Regions from separate parts of the Homo sapiens genome. Here regions 1 and 2 are each linked to region 3. Evidence: fine-mapped expression QTL. A gene starts in region 3. Each other region holds a variant in brackets. All regions are shown on one strand. Distances are between the middles of the regions. Region 1 overlaps GLRA1 (glycine receptor alpha 1). Region 2 overlaps G3BP1 (G3BP stress granule assembly factor 1). Region 3 holds the start of SPARC (secreted protein acidic and cysteine rich).

Region 1 (8,000 bases), 150 kb before region 3:
AACCTCCAACTCCTGGGTTCAAGCAATTCTCCTGCCTCAGCCTCCCAAGTAGCTGGGATTACAGGCACACGCCACCACGCTCAGCTAATTTTTGTATTTTTAGTAGAGATGGGGTTTCTCCATGTTGGCCAGACTGGTCTCAAACTCCTGACCTCAGATGATCCACCCGTCTTGGCCTCCCAAAGTGCTGGGATTACAGGCATGAGCCACCATGAATGGCCTCTATTTCTTTCTGGGTCAGTGTCTTTTTAGGAATTTGTCCACCTCATTTAGGTTATCAAATTTATTGGCATACAGTTGTTCAAAGTATTCCCTTATAATCCTTTTTATTTCTGTAAAGTCAATGATAATGCCTCCTCTTTCACTCTTTTAGTAATCTGATTCTTCCCTCATTTTTTCTTGAACAGTATAGTTAGAAGTTATTCAATTTTGCTAATTTTTTCAAAGAATCAACATTTGGTTTCATTGATTTTCTCTATTATTTTTCTACTGTTCTACTTATTACCATTCCAATCTTTATTATTTTCTTCCTTCTGCTTGCTTTGACTTTAGTTTGCCCTCCTAGTTTCTTAAAGTGCAAAGTTATTGATTTAGGACCTTTCTTCTTTTTAAAATAGGTGTTTACAGTTATACACTTCCCTCTAAAAATGATTTTAGCTGCATCTCATTAGTTGTAGTATGTTGTGTTTTCAATTCTCCTCAGAGTATTCCTTAATATATCTTTTATTTATTCTTTGATGCATTGTTTAATTTATTGTTGTGAGTTTTCCAACTTTCTTTTGGTTATTGATTTTTAATATTCCATTGAAATCAGAAAACATATTTTGTATGATTTCAACTATTTTAAGTTTGAGACTTGTTTTATGCATAATAGTATGGTTTATTCTGAAAATACTCCATGGTGCACTTCAGAAGAATGTACATTCTTCTGTTACTGTGTGGAGTGTTCTATAGGTGTTCTTTAGGTCTAGTTGGTTTACAGTGTCAATTAAGTTTTTCATTTCCTTGGCAATCTTCTAATTATTCTATTCATTATAAAAAGCAGGGTTTTGAAGACACCAAGTATTATTGTTGAATTATCTATTTATTGCTTCAATTCAGGCAGTTTTGCTTCATATATTTTGGGGCTCTGTTGTTAGATGCATAGATGTTTATAATTGTTATATTTCTTGATGGATTGACTCATTTATTATCAAATGCTCTTCATCTCTTATTAACAATTTTTTTTTCTTAAAGACTGGTTTGTTTGTGGGTTTTTTTTTTTTCTGATGTTGGTATAATCACCTAAAGGCCTCTTTTGGTTACTGTTTACATGGTATGTTTTTTCCATTCTTCTACTTTTATCCTAGTTGTGTCTTTGAATCTAAAGTGTATCTTTTATAGACAGTATGTAGTTGCATTTTATTTTTTAATCCAGTCTGACAATCTCTAACTTTCAATTAGTTTGTTTAGTCTATTTCCACTTAATTTAATTAATGTAATAAAAAATGCGATTTCGTATAATTTACATCTGCCATTGTGTTGTTTTCTATATATATCTTATCTTTTTTGTGTCTTTGTTCCTCCGTTACTGCCTTTTTGCATTAAATATGTATTTTTGTGAGTGCAGTTGCTCATGCCTGTAATTCCAGCACTTTGGGAGGCTGAGGCAGGTAGGTTGCTTGAGCTCAGTAGTCCAAGACCAGCCTGAGCAACATGGTGAAATCCCATCTTTACAAAAAATACTTTTAAAAAATTAGCTGGATGGAATGGCATACAGCTGTAGTCCTAGCTACTTGGGAGGCTGAGGTGGGAGGACTGCTTGAACCTTGGAGATTGAGGCTGCAGTGAGCCATGCTGGCAACACTGCACTCCAGCCTGGGTGACAAAGCAAGACACTATCAAAAAAAAAAAAAACAGTATTTTCTAGCGTGTCATCTTAATTCCCTGGTCATTTCTTTTACTATTTTTTTCCAGTTATTTTTTTCATGATTGCCCTGAGGATTACAATTTCATCTTATTTTAGAAACATCTAATTCAGATTATTAATACTAACTTAATTACAACAGTGTCTTAGTTTACTTGGACTGCTAAAAGAAATGCCACAGATTTGGTGGTTTAAACAATAAAAATTTATTTTTCATAGTTCTGAAACCTGGGAAGTCCAAAATCAAGGTGGCAGCTAATTCAGTTGCTGGTGAAGGTTCTTTTTCAGGTTTGCAGATGACCACTTTCTTGCTTTGTCCTAACATGGTAGAGAAAGAGTTCTGGTATCTCTTCTTCCCTAAATCCTATTGAATTAAGGCCCCACCTGTAAGATCTCACCCTAAAGATCTCACCTCTAAGATCTAACCCTAACCCTAACCCTAAGTCTAACCTAATCACTTCCTCATAGGCCCTGTCTCCAAATACAGTCATAATGGGGGTAAGGACTTCAACATACAAATGCTAGGGGCACACAAATATTCAGTTCATAACAAACAGTACGCAAAAAACTTTGCTCCTATATATATCTCAATTACCTCCCCCTTCCTTTGCACTATTATCATACAAATTACATCTTCATTATATGTTGATTAACACAGGTTTACAATCATTGATTTACTCAACTGTCCTTTAAATCAGATAGGAGAAAAAAGTTATAAACAAAAACTGCATTTTTTATATTGTCTTGAATATTTACCTATGCAGTTACCTTTACTAATACTCCTTATTTCTTCGTATGAATTTGAGTTACTGTCTAGCATCCTTTTATTTCAGCCTAAAGGGCGTCCTTTAGTATTTCTTGTAGGACAGATCTGCTAGCGGAAGTCTCTCAGCTTTTGTTTACCTAAAAATGTATTTTTCATTTTTAAGGGATACAGAATTCTTGAGAAAAATTGGCAGTCTTTTCCTTTCAGCACTTTGAAAATGTTATCCCACTATCTTCTGTACCCGATGGTGTTAATGAGAATACAACTGTTAATCTTATCAAGAATCCCTTGTACAAAAGGAGTTGCTTCTCTTTTGCTGTTTTAAGATTCTGCCTTTGCAGGAGAATTTCTTGAACCTGGGAGGTGGAGGTTGCAGTAGCAGAGATCTAGCCACTGCACTCTAGCCTGGGCAACAGAGCGAGACTCCATCTGAAAAAAAAAGATTCTGACTTTGTCTTCTGACATTTTGATTAGGATGTGTCTAGGTGTGGATCTCTTTATCTTACTTGGATTTCCCTGTGCTTCTTAGATGTATAGATTACTATTTTTAATCAAATTTGATAAGTTTTCAGGCACTATTTTTTTAAATATTCTTTCTGTCTCCACTGCAAATTCCTATTAAACATTATGTTGGTGCATTACATGGTTTCCCACAGGTTTCTGGGGCTGTTTATTTTTCTTCATTCTGTTCCTCAGACCATATAATCTAAAATTCACTGATTCTTCTTTAAGTTTCCTGATTCTTCTGTCTTCTTAAATCTACTGTTGATTCCATCTAGTGAAGTTTTCATTTCA[G/C]TTATTTTACTTTTCAACTCCAGAATTTCTATTTGGTTCTTCTTTATCATTTCTTTTTTTGAGAAGGACTCTCACTCTGTTGCCCAGGCTAGAGTGCGGTGATACGATCTCGGCTCACTACAATCTCTGCCTCCTGTGTTCAAGCAATTCTCCAATCTTAGCCTCCCGAGTAGCTGGGATTACAGGCATGCACCACCACACCTGGCTAATTTTTTCTATTTTTAGTAGAGACGAGGTTTCACCATGTTGGCCAGGCTGGTCTCAAACTCCTGACCTGAGGTGATCTACCTGCCTCAGCCTCCCAAAGTGCTGGGATTACAGGCTATCATTTCTCTTTATTAATATGCTATATTTGGTGAGACACTGCTCTCATATTTTCCTTTAGTTGTTTAGACATAGTTTCCTCTAGTTTGTTGAACATACTTAAAATAACTGATTTAAAGTCTTTGTCTATTAAGTCCAGCATCTGGGCTTCCTCAGGGACAGCTTCTTTTGACTACTTTTCTCCCTATGTATGAGCCATACTTTCCTCTTTCTTTGCATGTCTTAGAATTTTTGTTAAAAATGGACATTTTATTTAAGTTCTGGGATACATGTGCAGAACATGCAGGTTTGTTACATAGGTATACACACGTCATGGTGGTTTGCTGCACCCATCAACCCATCATCTACGTTAGGTATTTCTCCTAATGCTATCCCTCCCCTAGCCCCCTACCACCCAATAGGCCCTGGTGTGTGATGTTCCCTGCCCTGTGTCCATGTATTCTCATTGTTGAACTCCCATTTATGAGTGAGAACATGCAGTATTTGGTTTTCTGTTCTTGTGTTAGTTTGCCGAGAATAATGGTTTCCAGCTTCATCCATGTCCCCACAAAGGACATGAACTCATCCTTTTTATGGCTGCATAGTATTCCATAGTGTATATGTGACACATTTTCTTTATCAGTCTATCATTGGTGGCCATTTGGGTTGGTTCCAAGGCTTTGCTATTGTGAACAGTGCTGCAATAAACATACGTGTGCATGTGTCTTTATAGTAGAATGATTTATAATCCTTTGGGTATATACCCAGTATTGGGATTGCTGGGTCAAATTATATTTCTAGTTCTAGATCCTTCAGGAATTGCCACACTGTCTTCCACAATGGTTGAACTAATTTACATTCTCACCAACAGTGTAAAAGCATTCCTATTTCTCCACATCCTCTCCAGCATCTGTTATTTCCTAACTTTTTAATGATGGCCATTCTAACTGGCATGACATGGTATCTCATTGTGGTTTTTATTTGCATTGCTCTAATGACCAGTGGTGATGAGCTTGTTTTCATATGTTTGTTGACTGCATAAATGTCTTCTTTTGAGAAGTGTCTGTTCATATCCTTTGCCCACTTTTTGATGGGGTTGTTTTTCTTATAAATTTGTTTAAGTTCTTTATAGATTCTGAATATTAGCCCTTTGTCAGATGGATAGATTGCAAAAATTTTCTCCCATTCCGTAGGTTGCCTGTTCACTCTGATGATAGTTTTTTGGTTTTTTGTTGTTGTTGTTGTTGTTTGCTGTGCAGAAGCTCTTTAGTTTAATTAGATCCCATTTGTCAATTTTGGCTTTTGTTGCCATTGCTTTTGGTGTTTTAGTCATGAAGGCTTTGTTTGGGCCTATGTCCTGAATGGTATTGCCTAGGTTTTCTTCTAGGGATTTTATGGTTTTAGGTCTTACATTTAAGTCCTCAATCCATCTTAATTTTTGTATAAGGTGTAAGGAAGGGGTGCAGTTTCAGTTTTCTGCTTAAGGCTAGACAGTTTTCCCAACACCATTTATTGAATAGGGAATCCTTTCCCCATTGCTTGTTTTTGTCAAGATCAGATGGTTATAGTTATGTGGCGTTATTTCTGAGGCCTCTGTTCTGTTCCGTTGGTCTATATATCAGTTTTGGTACCAGCATCATGCTGTTTTGGTTACTGCAGCCTTGTAGTATAGCTTGAAGTTGGGTAGTGTGATGCCTCCAGCTTTGTTCTCTTGGCTTAGGATTGTCTTGGTTATGTGGGCTCTTTTTTGGTTACATATGAAATTTGAAGTAGTTTTTTCTAATTCTGTGAAGAAAGTCAATGGTAGCTTGATGGTGATAGCAATGAATCTATAAATTACTTTGGGAAGTATGGCCATTTTCACAATATTAATTCTTCCTATCCATGAGCATGGAATGTTCTTCCATTTGTTTGTGTCCTCTCTTATTTCCTTGAGCAGTGGTTTGTAGTTCTCCTTGAAGAGGTCCTTCACATCCCTTGTAAGCTGTATTCCTAGGTATTCTATTCTCTTTGCAGCAGTTGTGAATGGGAGTTCACTCATTATTTGGGTCTCTGTCTATTATTGGTGTATAGGAATACTTGTGATTTTTGCACATTGATTTTGTATCCTGAGACTTTGCTAAAGTTGCTTATCAACTTAAAGAGATTTTGGGCTGAGACAATGGGGTTTTCTAAATATACAATCATGTCATCTGCAAACAGATATAATTTGACTTCCTCTCTTCCTATTTAAATACCTTTTATTTCTTTCTCTTGCCTGACTGCCCTGGCCAGCACTTCCAATACTATGTTGAATAGGAGTGGTGAGAGAGGGAATCCTTGTCTTGTGCTGGCTTTCAAAGGGAATGCTTCCAGCTTTTGCTCATTCTATATGATACTGGCTGCAGGTTTGTCATAAATAGCTCTTATTATTTTGAGATACATTCCATCAATACCCAGTTTATTGAGAGTTTTTAGCATGAAGGGGTGTGGAATTTTATCAAAGGCCTTTTCTGCATCTATTGAGATAATCATGGGTTTTTGGCATTGGTTCTGTCTTTATGATGGATTATGTCTATTGATTTGCATATATTGAACCAGCCTTGCATCCCAGGGATGAAGCTGAATTGATGGTCATGGATAAGCTTTTTGATGTGCTGCTGGATTCAGTTTGCCAGTAATTTATTGAGGATTTTCTAATCGATGTTCATCAAGGATATTGGTCTGAAATTCTCTTTTTTTGTTGTGTCTCTGCCAGGTTTTGGTATCAGGATGATGTTGGCCTCATAAAATGAGTTTTGGTATCAGGATGATGCTGGCCTCATAAAATGAGTTAGGGAGGAGTCCCTCTTTTTCTATTGTTTGGAATAGTTTCAGAATGAATGGTACCAGCTCCTCTTTGTACCTCTTGTAGAATTTGGCTGTGAATCCTTCTGGTCCTGGGCTTTTTTTGGTTGGTAGGTTATTAATTACTGTGTCAATTTCAGACTTGTTATTGACCTTTTCCGGGATTCAACTTCTTCCTGGGTTAGTCTTGGGAGGGTGTATGTGTCCAGGAATTTATCCATTTCTCCTAGATTTTCTAGTTTATTTGCATAGAGGTGTTTACAATATTCTCTGATGGTAGTTTGTATTTCTGTGGGATCAGTGGTGATATCCCCTTTATCATTTTTATCGTGTCTATTTCATTCTTCTCTTTTTTTTTTTTTTTTTTTTTTTGAGATGTTGTCTCGCTCTGTCGCCCAGGCTGGAGTGCAGTGGCGCAATCTTGGCTCACTGCAAGCTCCACTTCTCGGGTTCACGCTATTCTCCTGCCTCAGCCTCCCAAGTAGCTGGGACTACAGGCGCCTGCCACCACGCCCGGCTAATTTTTTGTATTTTTTAGTAGAGACGGGGTTTCATCGTGTTAGCCAGGATGGTCTTGATCTCTTGACCTCATGATCCACCCACCTTGGCCTCCCAAAGTGCTGGGATTACAGGCATGAGCCACCACGCCCAGCCTCTTTTCTTTATTAGGCTGGCTAGCAGTCTATATATTTTATTAATCTTCAACAAACCAGCCCTGGATTCACTGATTTTTTGAAGGGTTTTTCATGTTTCTATCTCCTTCAGTTCTGCTCTGATTTTAGTTATTTCTTGTCTTCTGCTAGCTTTTGAATTTGTTTGCTCTTGCTTTTCTAGTTCTTTTAATTCTGATGTTAGGGTGTCAATTTTAGATCTTTCCTGCTTTCTCCTGTGGGCATTTAGTGCTATAAATTTTCCTCTAAACACTGCTTTAGATGTGTCCCAGAGATTCTGGTATGTTGTGTCTTTGTTATCATTGGTTTCAAAGAAATTATTCATTTCTGCCTTAATTTCGTTATTTACCCAGTAGTTATTCAGGAGCAGGTTGTTTAGTTTCCGTGGAGTTTTGTGGTTTTGAGTGAGTTTCTTAATCCTGAGTTTCAATTTGATTGTGCTGTGGTCTGAGAGACTGTTTGTTATGATTTCCATTCTTTTGCATTTGCTGAGGAATGTTTTACTTCCAATTATGTGGTCAATTTTAGAATAAGTGTGATGTGTTGCTGAGAAGAAGGTATATTTTGTTGATTTTGGGTGGAGAGTTCTGTAATTTCTATTAGGTCCGCTTGGTCCAGAGCTGAGTTCACATCCTGAATATCCTCGTTAATTTTTTGTCTCGTTGATCTAATATTATTTTCAGTGGGGTGTTAAAGTCTCCCACTATTATTGTGTGAGAGTCTAAGTCTCTTT
Region 2 (8,261 bases), 120 kb before region 3:
CAGTGTTGTACTGAGGTGATATCTATCCACTAATAAGAATGTAAATATAAACAAGTTTTATCTCACATGTGCCACCATCTCTCCTTTACTATAGTCTGTTAAGAGTTGACAGGCCCACCTATGGTCCCCAGAATCTCAACATTAAACAAATATAAATCCCAAAAGGCATTACTACCTTAGAACCAGAAATTCTTAGTTATCATCTTGTGCCACACGGCCATTACTTGATCAGCAACTTTAACTTAACCCCTCATCCCACATAAGACATTGCTAATTTTTTTTTGGTACATTAGGCAGTTAGCTAAAACCTGATATTCAAATAAATGCTGATGTTACTTCAAGTTTAAAAACTGCTGAACTAAAAAGGTCAACAATTATCTATATGCAGCATTGCAAAGATTCCTTTAAGTAGCACAAAAAGAAAACTGCAATATAAAAAACATCTTTATAGATTTGACAAATGCAACCATTTAAAAGAAATGTCACTCAGCATAAACAGTGGTCTACAAATCTAAGCTCTTCAAAAAGGTTACCTGTAAGTTCTAAAATGGCCTTCTATAAAGTGCAACATTTTCCATTAAATCGTTAAATTCTACAAGGGTTTTTCAAATAGAGGGATGAAGAAAAGTATCAGAAGGTGACAGTTTATAAGCACAAAACACAAATTCTATAAACTCACCTGGATTATACTATAATAAAAATATTATTATTCACATCCAGATTTGAAGTTTGCATTAAATTATCAAACCTGATGAGAAAAAACTTAAAAACAAACCACCATTATTGTGTTACCATATATAATCTGCAAATCAAAAAAAGACTCACAAAACCCAAGTTTAATTATCTTGTTTGCCCTAAAGGAAATTAAGAACTGTAATGTTAACCTTGTTCTGAATGTATTCCAGACTCAAGTCTCCCTACAGTAGGAAGTTCATTGCGGTCTATGCTACTGAAATGTAATTAGGGGGGCATTATGGTTCTAGAGAAAAAGCATCAGTTTGGGAGGCAAATGTGCTCCTTGCTACATGGATGACTTGGAAGCCTGTCATTTAACTGTTCTGATTCAGTTTCTTCCTCATCTATTGTGCTGAGGACAATATCACCTAACCCGCAGCACAGATGTGAAAATTAACTTTTCTAACCTAAAGTGCAATTCAACTAACACTGTGGTAATGACATACTCAACCAAAGTCAAATTATTATTTTTGGATTATCTATCTCACTGGTCCCTAGCAATATCTGACAAAGTTGAGAACGCTGGAATACACAAAGTAAAACCCAACCTCACCACTAAAACAAAAATACAGTTTAAGGCCCAAGATGTCTAATTACAAATTAACAGGTCTTAAAAAACTAAGACCCACTGAACCAAACAAATCTTATCTAACTAAAATACTCATGAGGCCAGGTGCAATGGTGCACACCTGTAGTTCCGGCTACTTGGAAGGCAGGAGAACTGATGAGGCCAGGAGCTTGAGACCAGCCTGACAACATAGCAAGACCTTGCCTCTATAAAAATAAAAATTTAAAAAAAAAATCTCATGGGTCAAGAGTTCTAAGCTCAGTAGCTAATAACTATACATTGGGCCATTCCTACGGATGAAAATTTTCATTTTAAAATCTGAAAATGTTCAATGTGATGAGCTCCTACTGCTGCCACCTATAGAAAATGTTGCCCTAACTTATAATGATTTTCCAGCAGTGGAAACGTATACATCTCTAAGCTCTCAGGTTTACTCTACATGCAATAATGTACATAATTGTACAAGGATTCTCAACAGTTCTGATCATGATGCTAATCCTATTTCTTAGGTCCAATACTATCATTCAAAACCTCACAATCATCCCAACTCTGATGACAGAAAGCACTGGGGAAGCTTTCTATTTTCTGAGATTGTGCAGTAATTCCCTGCAACAAATTACAAGCAGCATCAGTATGTATTGCTACCACCTCTCCACATTTACACCAACATACACAACACACACATACATTTGGTACAAATAATAAAAAGTGAAATTACTAATTCCTTAGAGTAGATGTTACTGCAATTCTTGAAACAGATTTCCATTTCCTAGTTTGTTATTTATCTGAGGCTGAGTTTCAAAAGAATGAGTCTTCATTCCAGTTTTCCTAATCCCACAGCTCCACCCACCCACAGGAATAGGGACTATCAGTGTTCTCAATGGGGTTGCTTCATTTTTACACAACATTTGGTATCCTTAGACCCCACCCAATAAATGCCAGATGCATGTCTCTCCAACAACCCTTCCAAATTTCACACATTTCCAAATGTCCTCTAGTATGTGATAACACCAAGCTGAGGATTGCTGCATCTAGTTAATGCCCTTAAGTCTCCAAGTAGGAAGAACTTCTGTTTTGAAATGTATAATTTAGTATTCACTCATGAAGGATAATTTCTAGGCTATCCATAATTTATGACCTTGAAGTTACCACAAAGTAATTTTTTTTTCCAAAGTGACTCAGACTAAACTTTTCTTTCCACCCACCACATGCTTAATATAAGCTACAAAAGTATAAGTTGTATTTCTTCCTATTATCAGTGATCTGGGCCAAAAGTGGTTACCAAAGTTACTTTAACCCTACAAAAAAGCCATGTGATTCAGTTACATTAAGTTTATGTAAAGGAGATGCTGCCAATTTTCAAATATTTGAGGAACTGGAACCAAACTGGTAATACCAACTTCACTGTGGTCTTAACCATCACAGCAAACCTAGAGTTTCTCAGTAATGCAAACCAAATATTCCTATGCTATCCTCAAACGACAGTCCTAAAGATGAATACTGTTAAGAAAATAAATACGCTGAATTTTACAACCTGGTTGCCCTTCAATTAGTAATGACAATCACACAAAAGTTTGTTTCACACGTGTAAACAAAACCTTCACCCATCTCACACACAGCACTCAACAAATAACACATATGTGAAACGAGTATTAGTCTATATTGCCAGATTAAATTTTCTTCCAGAAATATTTTAATAAAAATTGGCCATTTCCAAGTAACACCCACTGCATGCCCATCAATAAAAGAGAACCATAACAAAATAGAAAATTTACCATATGGCTATGATTTTAAGAAAAAAAAAAATGCGGACACGAGCACATGAGCAAAGTCCAATATTAAAGTAACATTCCTTCTTACGGGCTATGATTAGGAATCTGATTAGATACCAGAATAAAAATACAAATGCTGAACTATTTAGGTCAAAGAACCTCTATAGAAGCATCTGTCTTCAAAGGCATTCCAGTTTGAGACTCAATTTTAGAATAAGGCATAACAAATATGTTAACAAAAGACATACACAAAGTGATGAAAGAGGGATTCTATAATTCCCCACATACTCTGAACCTAATAAAACAAATCTAGATTTTTTTTTTAAACAATTGCCAAGACTGAAATCAAAGATAAATAGAAGGCACAACAGTTTTGCTCTGGTTGTTATCTGGGTTTTGGGAATTTTTTTGCTTTTTGTTTTTTTACAAATACAAATTAAACATGAAAAAACTACTTCAAAAAAACTAACAGTTCAAGAAAAGCCTATCAGTTGCATTCTAGACATTTAAAACCTATTATCACAATTTAAATTTCAATGGTAAAAACAGTTAGGTTTTAGAATTGTTTTGTGATCCTTTATCAAAAAAAAATTCTATTCCTTTTATTCAGTTTTTAAACATACCAGTGAGAATCAAAATTGTCAAATTTTCCAATGGCAATTTCTCCACACCAGAAGGTAGTCATGACTCTCAAAGAAGAAACAATTTGGGTTTTTCCTGCCTTCAAAATATTATCAAATCCTGTATTTCTTACAGGCTTTTCAAACACGTAGAAAATAAGAAATATTCCAATGAATGAAACATACCAAATGTCAGTAATATGCAAGACATTCCTTTGGGGAAATGGCTGTAAAAAAAAAAAAAAAA[T/AT]CCAGTCTGTATATGCAAAGTAAGCAAGGAAATTCAGTCTTTTTTTTTGCTTCTTTAAAAGTCCGTTATTCCTAAAATATCATTCCACAAAATTGGAAGTGAAAGACTAAAGGTCAGGAAAGGGAAGAGAGGGAGAGGGAGCACACACCATTAACACACAAAAAAAGTAAAATTATACAAACTTAAGCAGTTTATAACAGACTGGGGTCATACTCCAAGATACCAAAGGCTGTCGAAAATTCACCATTCTGTTGGAACCAGGGTTTGTATGGCTGCATGAAGATCCATGAAGATTCACTGCCGTGGCGCAAGCCCCCTTCCCACTCCAAATCCTGGTTTCTGCACCATGCCTCCACGGGGAGGGCCTCTCATTCCACCACCCAGCCCACCTCGAGGGCCTCCAGGTCCCCGAAGGCGATTATCTCGTCGGTCGCCTTCCCTGGCAGCTCGAGTCTTCTTCTCTTCGACATTCAGACGGACCTCACCTCTGAACATGATGGGCTGTAAGAATCAAGGTGACCAGACTTAAGAGTACTGATGAGCTGGCTATCACTATCAAAGATAAAGAAAGCTGTAATAATGAACCAGCAGAGGCTGGGCACGGTGACTCATGCCTGTAATCCCAGCACTTTGGGAGGCCGAGACGGGTGGATTACGAGGTCAGGAGTTCAAGACCAGCCTGACCAACATGGTGAAACCCCGTCTCTACTAAAAAAACACAAAAATTAGCCAGACATGGTGACACACGCCTGTAGTTCCAGCTATTCAAGGAGGCTGAGGCAGGAGAATTGCTTGAACCCAGGAGGCGGAGGTTGCAGTGAGCCAAGATCACGCCATTGTACTCCAGTCTGGGAAAAAGAGCGAGACTCCGACTCAGAAAAAAAAAAGAACCAGCAGATTATAAATCAGCTAAGTTCTCACAGTTCAGTTTTTTGTTTGTTTTTTTAATGAGACAGAGTTTCACTCGTCACCCAGACTGGAGTGCAACTTGAACCCGGGTGGCGGAAGTTGTGGTGAGCCAAGGTCGTGCCACTGCACTCCAGCATGGGCGACAGAGTGAGACTCCGTCCCAATAAAAAATAAAAAATAAAAAAAATTGCCACCTTCTCCATAGATTTGGAGGCTTAGAATAAAACCTCATCATCACCAGTGTGAAAAGATGGTACTGTACATATTTATGCAAAGTACATATACATTTAAAATAAAAACTTCATTAATTTGACATAAACTTTAATTTGCTCTTTAACACCTCCTGAGAATTTTGGATAGTCTTGGCCTTCGTTTCCTCCTAACAGAGCCAAAGTAGTTAAGGGGCTACGAAACATTTCAATATATTCAATTTATGCTCTTCACCAGCAATGTAATTTTCTAATTTCTTAAAATGAGTATCTAAGAGTACTTACTATGTGTCGCGGAAGTGTTCTATTCAAATTTATTTATTTATTTATTTTTTGAGATGGAGTCTCGCTCTGCTGCCCAGGCTGGAGTGCAGTGGCGCGATCTCGGCTCACTGCAAGCTCCGCCTCCCAGATTCACGCCATTCTCCTGCCTCAGTCTCCCGAGTAGCTGGGACTACAGGCGTCCGCCACCACACCCAGCTAATTTTTTGTATTTTTAGTAGAGACGGGGTTTCACCGTGTTAGCCAGGATGGTCTCAATCTCCTGACCTCGTGATCCGCCCGCCTCGGCCTCCCAAAGTGCTGGGATTACAGGCGTGAGCCACTGTGCCCAGCTCTATTCAAATTTATTAGCTCACTTAACCTTTACAACAACCCTCTGATGGTAGATACCTACTTTAAGGACTAGCAAACTAAGGGCCGGGGAGGTTAAGTAACTTGTCCCATGGGTCACAACACTAATGAGTGATGAAAGGAGAATACAAACCAAGGCCTCCAGGGAAAAATAAGCTTTGAAACGGTAAGCTACACTACAGTATGTCATACACCACGGCAATCAGTCTTACATAAGCTATTTCTGCTCACACAAAAAATTAGTGAAGGGAGCATAGTAGACTTCTATCAATACCATGAAATGAAGGGTGGCCACTAGGCCTAATACATGCTGAATGATGGATTTATCTACAAAGCCTACTGGACATTTCTGGGTTCTTCAGTGGCTTTGGTGAGATAAACCACTGTTCTCTCATTTCTCAAACAGTATTTTGCAGGAGATGCTTCACAAAAATAAATGGTCAAATAATTTGAAAGATAATGTATATTTGCATACTCAGGTTGACATGTTATAACCACAACATTAAACTATGCAGTAAGGCCAGGTGCATTGGCTCGCACCTATAATCCCAGCACTTTGGGAGGCCAAGGTCAGCGGATCACCTGAGGTCAGGAGTTCGAGATCAGCCTGGTTAACATGGGGAAGCCCCATGTCTACTAAAAATACAAAAAAATCAGCTGGGCATGGTGGCGGGTGCCTGTAATCCCAGCTACTCAGGAAGTTGAGGCAGGAGAACTGCTTGAACCCAGGATGTGGAGGTTGCAGTGAGCCAAGATCACACCATTGCACTCCAGCCTGGGTGGCAGAGAGAGACACTGTCTCAAAAAAAAAAAAATAAAAAAATAAAAAACTTTGCAGTATGCCCATTAACATTCTGGAGAATATCACTGATCTGCAGTATTTTTATTATATGGTTTAAAGTACACAATTTTAATTCATAGGGACAGAAAGCAGATTAGTGGCTGCCAGGGGTTGGGAGACAGGTACAAGGAATGACTGCTTAGTGAGTAAAGAGCTTATGGCTTTTAGTAAAAAACTTTTGGAATTAAAGGTAATGGTTGCACAATAATGTGTTCTAAATGCAATTAAGTTGTACATTTTTAAATGGTTAATTTTGTTATGTAAATTTCACCTCAATAAAAAAGTATAGCTTAGTAAATTAATATTATTTATACACTTGTTCTTCTCTACTACTACAAAAAGTAGTTTTTTGCTAGAGGAAGGGAAGCTTTCTTTGGGGATCCCACAGTAAGATTTCCATTCTACAAATTCTTCTATTATTAGAACGTACAGAGTAAGAGTACTGTTAGTAAGGATGGTTCCAAGTAGGTTGACTATATAATTTATCTTCCAAATCCAATTTATTAACTTAAAGAAGAAGCTCTTAATAGTTATTCTCTAAAAACAGCAGTATACCAAAACTGTCCTGGGCAAACTGGCTCTTATCTTAGTTAATAGTTAGAAGTAGGTTTGTATTTCATCTCCTGTATACCAAAAGCCACCACCAAGGAAAGGTAGTTACGTAAATCTCAGTGCACTGATAACTATTCATTTTCTCATTCTCATAATTCATGTTTTCAAAAACTAAGTTACTTAAACATAAGGTTTGTTTTCCTAAACCCCCAGGCAAGTCTTTTAATAATGGTTGAAAATAATGAATAAATTACCTGAACATGTTGGAATAAACTGCACTTTACATAAAGACCCAGCTGTAAAGATATATTCTAAAGAACCAAAACCCTTTTTAAAAAAAAAAAAAAAAAATCAAGACAAAAAGCTGCTTACCCTGTTGCTAAGGACTTTCTGAACAGGCTCAGAATCATCAAACACAACAAAACCAAAATTGGGTAATTTCCCACCACTGTTAATGCGCAACTCCACCACGTTTCCATAACCTGCAAGTGAAACACATTCTCAGATAACTACTTAGACCATTATCTTTAAACATTACATGTACACAGTCCAATACAGTAGCCACTAGATGCATGTGACTACTGAGCACTTGAATTATAAATATAGCTAGTCTGAATTGAGATGTGCCTCTCATAAGTGTAAAATTATGGGAGGCACATTTGGATTTCAAAGATTATGAAAAAGTGTAAAATATCTCTCACAATATTCTTACATGTTGAAATGACAATGCCTTAAGTTAAATGTTATTAAAATTATCCAGTTTCTTTTTACCTTTTTTTTTTTAACCATGACTACTAGAAAATTTATAATTACATATGTGGCTCATTTTCTATTGCTACTGGACAGTGCTAGAGAGACACTAGATGAATTTAGTGTTCAAAACTCAATAACCTACTTTGAAAGAAATCTTTAAGCTCTGATTTGTCCACTTCATGAGGCAGGTTGCCAATGAAGAGTTGGTGACTGTCAGGGTGTCTCACCATTCTTCGGGGTTCAATGTCACCTTGCTCACCAGCCTCACGGACTTAAAAGGAGACAAAAACATCAATGAAAGACAAGAGAAAGAAGACATCTTTCAATGACTGCTCACATTCAATAGTTTTCCCTCTACACTAAAAACAGGTAATTCCATCAACCCTACAATATTTTTATTTTAAAGTATATAAATATCAACT
Region 3 (8,280 bases):
TGGCCCTCAGGAGGGATCTCTCTTCCAGAGCTTCAGCCCAGCCCCAACCAGACTTCCACTTCCTGAACTGAAAGCCACATGGGAACACCAGCCAAAAACTGGGAAGAGTTCCACTGGTTCATCCTCATCAGAATCATCATTTTAGTTTATGAATAAAAATACAAAGCTTCTGCTAATTTTAGTCCCATAATGCCTGGGAGCTATAGCAACCAATCCTATAAAAATATACATCTGTCCGGATGGCAAAACAGATATGTGGAGAGTCCACCAGCACCCTGTATTCAGCAGCCAAAAGCACTTGGCTTTTGAACCAGGGTGAGAGGCCTTGGGGGGTCTTTATTTATTTATTTAGAGACGGAGTCTTGCTCTGTCTCCAAGGCTAGAGTGCAATGGTGCCATCTCGGCTCACTGCAACCTCCGCCTCTTGGGTTCAAGCGATTCTCCTGCCTCAGCCTCCCATGTAGCTGGGATTACAGGCACGTGCCATGATGCCCAACTAATTTCTTTTGTATTTCTAGTAGAGACAGGGTTTTGCCATGTTGGCCAGCCTGGTGTCGAACTCCTGACCGCAGGTGATCTACCTGCCTCAGCCTCCCAAAGGGCTGGAATTACAGGAGTGAGCCACCATGCCTGGCCTTATTATTATTATTATTATTTTATTATTATTACAGACAGCATCTTGCTCTGTCACCGAGGCTAGTCTCAGGCTTCTGGCCTTAAGCAATCCTCCTGCTTCAGCCTCAGAGTAGCTGGGACTCCAGGAACATACTACTGCACCCGGCCCTTGGGGGTCATTTGGAGAAGACTCCTTCTTGGGTGTTTGTGGATTTTTCTGCAGAGAAAGTTCATTGCTTCCTTTAGGTTCTCAAAAGGACCAAACACCCTAACTTTTATATTCCACTTTAGTGGTTTGAGGGTCTCTTGGGTGTGGGGCAGTGTTCCAGGCTGGAACCCTAGTAAAAGACAACCCTCTCTTTTTTCAGATGGGCAAGTCGGAAGTTCATATATTTATTGAATAAAATATTGCAAGCCAGCTTTGTGTGGGGCACTGGTCAACATGCTGGGAACAAAGCAGTAAACAGACATGTGAAGTCCCTGCTCTCACCAAGCTTCTGTCTAGTTGGGGAAACAAATGGTTTCTGAGAATGACAGGTGATGGGGAGGAAATAAAACAGTGTAAGGCGATGAACTGTGCCTGTGAGAGAGGCAAGTAGATTGAGTGGCCCTAAGGAGGTGACATTAGAATAGGCACAGGAAAATCAGGTGGAAGAGTGTCTCTGGCAGAGGTAAGAGCAAATGCAAAGATACTGGGCATGGTGGCTCAGACTTGTAATCCCAACACTTAGAGAGGCCAAGGCGGGCGGATCACTTGTGGTCAGGAGTTCGAGACCAGTCTGGCCAACATGGTGAAACCCTGTCTCTACTAAAAATACAAAAATTAGCCTGGTGTGGTGGTGCATGCCTGTAATCCCAGCTTCTTGAGAGGCTGAGGCAGCAGAATCACTTGAACCCAGGAGGTGGAGGTTGCAGTGAGTTGAGATTGCGCCACAGCCCTCCAGCCTGGGCAACAAAGTGAGAGTCTGTCTCAAAAAAAAAAAAAAAATCCTGGGGTGGGAGAAGCTTTGGGGTAGTTGAAGGACTGGAAGGAAGTTGGCATGGCTGGAGCAGCGTGGGCACAGAGGACAGTGGTAGGAGGAGAGAATGGCAAGAGAGACAGGGGCCACAGCGGATGGAAGTGTATCATGAGGGTGTTCTCTGCCTTCTTCCTTTCCATGGTATTCAAACCCAACCCATGCTTCCAGGTCCACCTCTTTCAGGAATCCACCAATCTGAAGCCCTGGGATAAGCCTTAGAGTCTGTACCACTCATGTAAGTGGGTGTATGTGTAAGGCACAACCTTTCAGCAAGATCCAAAGCTCCTTGAATAGTGAGTTATCTCGATTGATTGTTCACAGTCACAGATTGAATTCCTTGTACTTTTTTTCCCTTCTCAGTTCTGCACTTAACTCGTCTAAAAAAATTAAAAAAGAATTTAAGAAACCACAAAGCTAAGCTGGGTGCGGTGGCTCACGCCTGTAATCCTAGCACTTTGGGAAGCCAAGGCATTCGGATTGCCCAAGCTCAGGAGTTCGAGACCAGCCTGGGCAACATGTTGAAACCCCATTTCTACTAAAAATACAATAAATTAGCTGGGTGTTGTGGCATGTGCGCCTGTAATCCCAGCTACTCTGGAGGCTGAGGCGCGATAATTGCTTGAACCCGGGAGGCAGAGGTTGCAGTGAGCCGAAATCATACCACTGCACTCCAGCCTGGGCGACAGAGTGAGTGAGACTCTGTCTCAAAACAAAACAAAACAAACAAACAAAAAAACCGGAAACCACAAAACTTTTTGAGGACAAGGACCAGGTATTTATTAATTCTCATACCTCCCAGAGTGTTAGGCACAAAATAAACATTCAACCAAGACCTGTTGCACTGAGCAGTTCATATATAACAGGAGTGACCCAAGTTGAAACGTAGAATCAGCCCTCTCATACCACTTTTTGCCAGGTGATCATAGGCAAGTTACTTAGCATCTATGTTTCCTTATTATTAAAATGGTCATAATTACAATGCCTAAGATAAGGGGTTGCTGTGAAGATTATTAAATCCTCAGTAAACTTTGGCTATTGTTACTCCTATGATTATCATCAATATCATCAATTACCTTATCTGTTCAATACTGGTGGCACAGGTCCACCAGCTAGATGTCTAATCCCTTATGTGTCTATTAGTGGTACAAGTGGAGTTTGAGTGGGATTTTTTTTTTTAAGACCAGTTCCAAATCATCAAGGATGATACCACTAGTAGCAGCTTGTCTTGTCTGTACAGTGGTAAGTCCTGGCCTTGCCTTTGTGGCAAATACAACCCCCTTGAATTGCTTGGCCCTTCTCAGCATTGCCTAATATTAGGGAGGACTCCTGTAAAGCTCACTGGTTAGAAGATCAAGACACTTGGGCCTGGTTCTGCCCCTGGGGGCCATTGGGTAATTCCTTGCAGTCTCCAGGCCTCACTTGCCCTCTGAACAAGAAAGAGGCTGTTCTGGGTCATCCCTCCAGGCCTGTCCAGCCCTGGCACTCTGTGAGTCGGTTTAGGCAGCAGCCCCGGAACAGATGAGGCAGGCAGGGTTGGGACGTTTGGTCAGGACAGCCCACCGCAAAAAGAGGAGGAAAGAAATGAAAGACAGAGACAGCTTTGGCTATGGGAGAAGGAGGAGGCCGGGGGAAGGAGGAGACAGGAGGAGGAGGGACCACGGGGTGGAGGGGAGATAGACCCAGCCCAGAGCTCTGAGTGGTTTCCTGTTGCCTGTCTCTAAACCCCTCCACATTCCCGCGGTCCTTCAGACTGCCCGGAGAGCGCGCTCTGCCTGCCGCCTGCCTGCCTGCCACTGAGGTATGTGTGACCCCCGCCCAGCCTTTCCCTTCTATAGTTGCACCAACCCCGACACCCCCGTTCACGCCGTCAGCTCGTGTGCAAGGGAGGGAAGCTCTGCTGAGGATGCGCCTCTCCTCCCGGCTCCATCACGGCTCCCCTTAAGAGCATGGCCCTCGGTCCTGTCTGCCTGTTGCTTTTCAGAAGGTGGACTCACTGTGTAACTTTGTCTTCCCTTACAGGTTTACAGAAAATAATCTCACTATGTCTTCGGGGGAGCATTTTCTCACTCTCTGTTTTTCTCTGTGTCTGTCTCTGGTTTCAGAGGCTGCCTGCCTGTCCTCTTTGCTCCCTTTGCAAATGTGGCAGCCTCCTCCTTTCCTGGGAATCTGATCCCATCACAGCTGCCACAGGGACCTGGCCAGCAACCGGAGTCTGTCCTCCAGATCTCGGTCAGGGGTTCTGTTTTCCAAAAGGGACTTTGCACGAACAATCAGTTGATCTCTGAAAGGCAAAGGGGGAGGCTTCACCATTAATCCACACCTCTGGGAAGCCTTCTGTTTTCCTCTAATTCTCCTCACTCCCAAACACCACCTTCCGTCCCCCCAATACACAAATTTCAGCACCATTCTGCCTGAAATGGCACCATCACAACCTCAGTCTTGGGTTAGGTGTTGTTCCTGTCCTGAGTTCCTTGGGATGGTAAACACAGGCAGTAGCCCTTAGTTTATCTAGATCTGAAAACCCAGACATCAGATATCGTCAACCAAGACATGGGTGTAATGGGAGGTGGAGTGTGCTGGGGGAGATATTCTCAGAAGGGGGAAAGGGGGAAGGGAAGAGGGAGAGAATTCCAGGGTCCCCTTCCGTAATCCACCCAAGACTAGTGTCCAGCCTGTCAGGGTGTCAGTTCTTCTTCAGACAAATCCACTACCTTTCTTCGCCGCCACTGGCTCCGTGAACTGGCTGTCAAGTGGACTTCCTTAGGGAAAGGGACTCCAAGGACTCCAAGGGAAGGGGGGCACTGGGATGAGTTATGTCTTCCAGGATTCCCAGTCTGCCCAAAAGGGAACAGAGAGGCATGCATTTTCCTCAGGAAAGGACAGCATTTTTTTCATTAGAGAAAATGTTTTCTCTAGTAATGCTTTAGAGTTAAATTTCTATACGCCCCAAGTGCTGGTGGTTTAGTGAGAAGCAAAGCAGAAGTAGGACACAGGCTTCGGGCATGCATTTTATGTGTGATCTTAGGTAAGTGTCTCCCCTGGATTTAGTGCCCCATCTGTAATGAAAGAAGGCTGAAACTGAAGGCTCTTTGGGGTGCTTTGTGTCCTCTAAAATATTCAAAGGAAGATTTCTTAACCAGGGTCTATGGAGTGGTCTTTGAATGGGCCTCAAGCCATCTCTAAGCCCCTAAAAATTGTATGCACTGTGTGTGTGTGTGTGTGTGTGTGTGTGTGTGTGTGAGAGAGAGAGGGAGAGAGAGAGAGAGAGAGGATGAATATGGGTGGTCACAGCTTTCAGCTTTAAGATATTCTCAAATGGATTAGAGGGCATGACGTGGGGATGGAGTGAGGACTGGTAACAAATGTGTGTATTTGCTGGAGGATGAAGCCTTCTGAAAAGGGAGTGGTTGAGGAAAGAGAGAGTTAACTCTCAGCTATCAGCTGCCACATCGACATAGCCTAGAGCAAAGAGGGGGAGGGAGGAGAAGAAGGGGGTTGCCTGGAGAAGGAATCAACTTTTGAAACTTTCTCCAAGTCCCACCCACCAGAAGGCTCTTCTCTGCCTGACTCACTCTCCGAGGAATGCGAGTTGCCACGGTAACCTTTTTTTCAGGGTCTCTGCCTGCTGGCTGGAGGGGACCCTTGAAACCCTCTAAGAACATCAGTCTGAACGTACCCCACCCCCAAATTCAAGGCCTGCAGCAAATTCTAGGCCCTGCCCTTGTGATCTCTCAGGATTCCGGGGAAGCCTTGGGCCATGATAATCTCCTTGCAAGGGTGTTTGAAGACCTGGGTTTTAGCTCTGGCTGTGCCCTGAAGGTACCATTTGACCTTGAACTAATACTTCTTTCTGGGCCCCATTCCCTCTACAGTTAAAGAACAGTAACAGCAGCCACCTCTAGGGGGTAGATAGTGTGTAGAAGAAATGGGATAATGCACAGGGAAGCACTTTGCGAATTGTGGCATTCCCTCATAATGCAAAGGGTTTTAGAACTGATGGATTAAAGGCATCCAAAGACCTAGTGAAATCATTCTCAGCTTTTTTTTTTTTTTTTTTTCCTGGCAGCTCCATCATCTTGGGGTTTGTATAGAACTTTCCTTTACTAGAAGTACTGACAGGAAAAATTTTAAAATCATAATATTGTTTATCTTCATTTTGATTTGGGGAACTTCTTGTGTATTTCCCAAGACTGTTGTGCCCTCTATGTAGGAAAAGCATTGGCCAAGGGTGAAAAAAAAAAAAAAAAGTGTGTTCTAACTCCCAGTGCCTGACATTGGGAAAGACACTTCCTCTCTTGAGGCTGCAGTTTCCCAAACTGTTAAATAGAGTTTCTAAGCTAGATGATTTCCCAGGCACCCTTCTAACTCTGAAGTCCTATAAACCTAAATCCCAGATACCGCTTTTATTCAAAGGAATAGCTTGCCTGCATTTTTAACACCGCCTTACTGCACCCCCAGTTGAAAAGAAAACAAGAAAAGATGGGCTAGGGGATCTTGAGTTGCATAACCATCATGCTGTAATCCTTATCCATCTGTAGAGATTTGTCAATCAACAGTGTGGCTGGGGTTTGCTATTCATGAGAGCAGCTTTCCTTGCTGAAAACAAGCTATAAATAAGAAAGAATGGTGAAGGAAAGGAAAGAGCTGAGGATGTGAGGTAAACAGTAGAATATTTGGCTTTTGAAGTTGTTTATGTAGGTAGATAAATATGCAGAGATAAACAGGGACAGGTACAAACCCATAGGGATGAAGAGTATAAACATCGATTTCATCAACAGGCACCCACTGGCTCAGCTAAAAATAAGTGCCTCATTACAGGAGCAGACACAGAAAGTCATTCACTCACACACCTCTTCCTGGATGACAATGATTTACAGACAAGTTCCAGGAATATATCTCAATGAATGTGAAAATTCTGACCCTCGCCTATTACAGGCTGAAACAGACAGATGCTAAGTCAGGCTGTATGTAACTTACACAGACATGCCATCAGGTATACAAACACACACCGCCACTTGCAGCCACACATGGATGGATGTGCACAGTCAAACATATGCACAGTCAAACATAATATGGATCATGACAATGAGACAGACGTGTAACCTACATTTATCACCAACCACCTCTATGTCTCAGAGAGAGAGAAACTGAGGCTCAGGAAGAGAAAATAACTCACTGGAGGTCACATAGCAAGCTGGCGTCTGAGCCAAACTTCCACGTGTTTGGAGCCATTTTGATATTCACCTTGCCTTCCCCCCCAATCCCCATTTGTTCAGTTTGGAAACACACTTATGCACACAAGCCCCATGGATACTAAGTGGTGAGCAGCACTTTGTCTCTCCCGTTGGCTGGCCTGCAATGCCTATTCCAGCCCACGTGGCTTTGTCATTAGGCCCAAAGGCCCTGCATGATGTGCCTGTAGGCGGCTGCTCCCTTGCTTCTAGCTGGCTCCCTCCCAAACGTCAGTTTCAAAGGAGAGAAGGGAAAACCAGCCTTGAGCTTTCAGCAACCCTGAGGACCTTGTTTCTACAGCACAGACCCTGATGCCTCCCTCCCTCCCTCCCTCCCTCCCAACCTCAATCCTGAACCCAGGGACAGCTGGGCTGTGCAGGGCCAGGGCCAGCAAGTAGTGACTTGACGGAATTATTTAGAGAAACAGCCTCTCCTCAACTGGCAGCTTAGACAGGAAATCATCTCTGCTCTCACCCATCAAGCTATAGAACTTTATGTCTGCAAGGAAAACATGAACATAGACAACAATTGTTGTCAGAGCTGGTTTCTTTCAGAAACTTGGTATTAACTTCTCTCATCTGGGGATCACTCTGGGTCATCTTGATGTTAGTCATGGCATTAGGATTTCAGACCTATCAGATAAAAAAAGCAAAGCAAACATCTGGATGTTTTTGAACATCTGGAAATTTGGCTTAGACACCAGCTTGCCGTGTGACCTCCAGTGAGGTATTTTCCTTCTCTAAGCCTCAATTTCTCTACCTCTACAATAAGAGGCAGCACACAGAGGTTTCATGTGGCCTGACAACATCACTAATTCATCGGTAGTGGCTGTCAGAAGAACTGTGTTCAGGATTCTGATGACTCTCTAAGCTTTAGGAGAAGAGGTCAAGCGATTGATTAGTAATGTCTGCCACATGTGCAGGAGGGGTAGGTGGAGGCCACGTGTTTGTCACATATGCCACATATTTGCTATCTTTGGGATCTCGGAGGCTTTTCCAGATGCAATAGCCTGGACACTTTGATGTTATTTCTCATCCTTTCATTTGTGGTCACCACAATGCAGCAGCGGTGCCCTAGAGGGAGCCAAGGATGAAGCCTGAAGCTCCACCCCAGCCTCTGCTAGCCACAGTGAAATGTGGCATCTCAGATGTCTTTATGGAATCTCGGGCTGATTCCAGCCCCAAACTCTGGAGCCACCTCTGAGTTGCCCCAGAAGCTCTCCAGTCCTAAGTTTTAGCTACCACACCTTAAAAGTTTCCTTTAGCGTCTTTCCTTCCAGCAGGAAATAGAAGTGGAAGCAGGGAGTCAAGGGGCAAGTGGAGAGAGGTAAGGCTCTAAAAAGCTTCTGCCCAAGTTGATCCGGAAAATCAGAGCTGAAAAGAACCTAAAGGACCACCTTGCCTAAGGGTTCCAT

The links.
Region 1: its variant is fine-mapped to the expression of SPARC in whole blood (INTERVAL, PIP above 0.99).
Region 2: its variant is fine-mapped to the expression of SPARC in whole blood (INTERVAL, PIP above 0.99).

Annotation. Positions count from the first base shown.
Region 1 is chr5:151,833,996-151,841,995 of GRCh38, reverse strand. The region is part of intron 7 of GLRA1 (glycine receptor alpha 1); the gene reads left to right. Among named protein-coding and RNA genes, the nearest start is that of G3BP1, 66 kb to the right of the region's middle. The variant G/C (reference allele first, on the strand shown) is at 3,468.
Region 2 is chr5:151,800,067-151,808,327 of GRCh38, reverse strand. It overlaps G3BP1 (G3BP stress granule assembly factor 1), which reads right to left. Exons shown (of 12, transcript NM_005754.3): 10 at 7,982-8,110; 11 at 7,459-7,568; 12 at 1-4,443. The coding sequence ends at 4,237. Among named protein-coding and RNA genes, the nearest start is that of G3BP1, 32 kb to the right of the region's middle. The variant T/AT (reference allele first, on the strand shown) is at 3,943.
Region 3 is chr5:151,682,017-151,690,296 of GRCh38, reverse strand. SPARC (secreted protein acidic and cysteine rich) reads left to right here and starts at 3,382. Exons shown (of 10, transcript NM_003118.4): 1 at 3,382-3,432. It overlaps CLMAT3 (colorectal liver metastasis associated transcript 3), which reads right to left. Exons shown (of 5, transcript NR_109873.1): 4 at 4,346-4,468; 5 at 2,387-3,915. RefSeq lists enhancers at 2,614-3,441, 3,442-4,271, 5,100-5,929.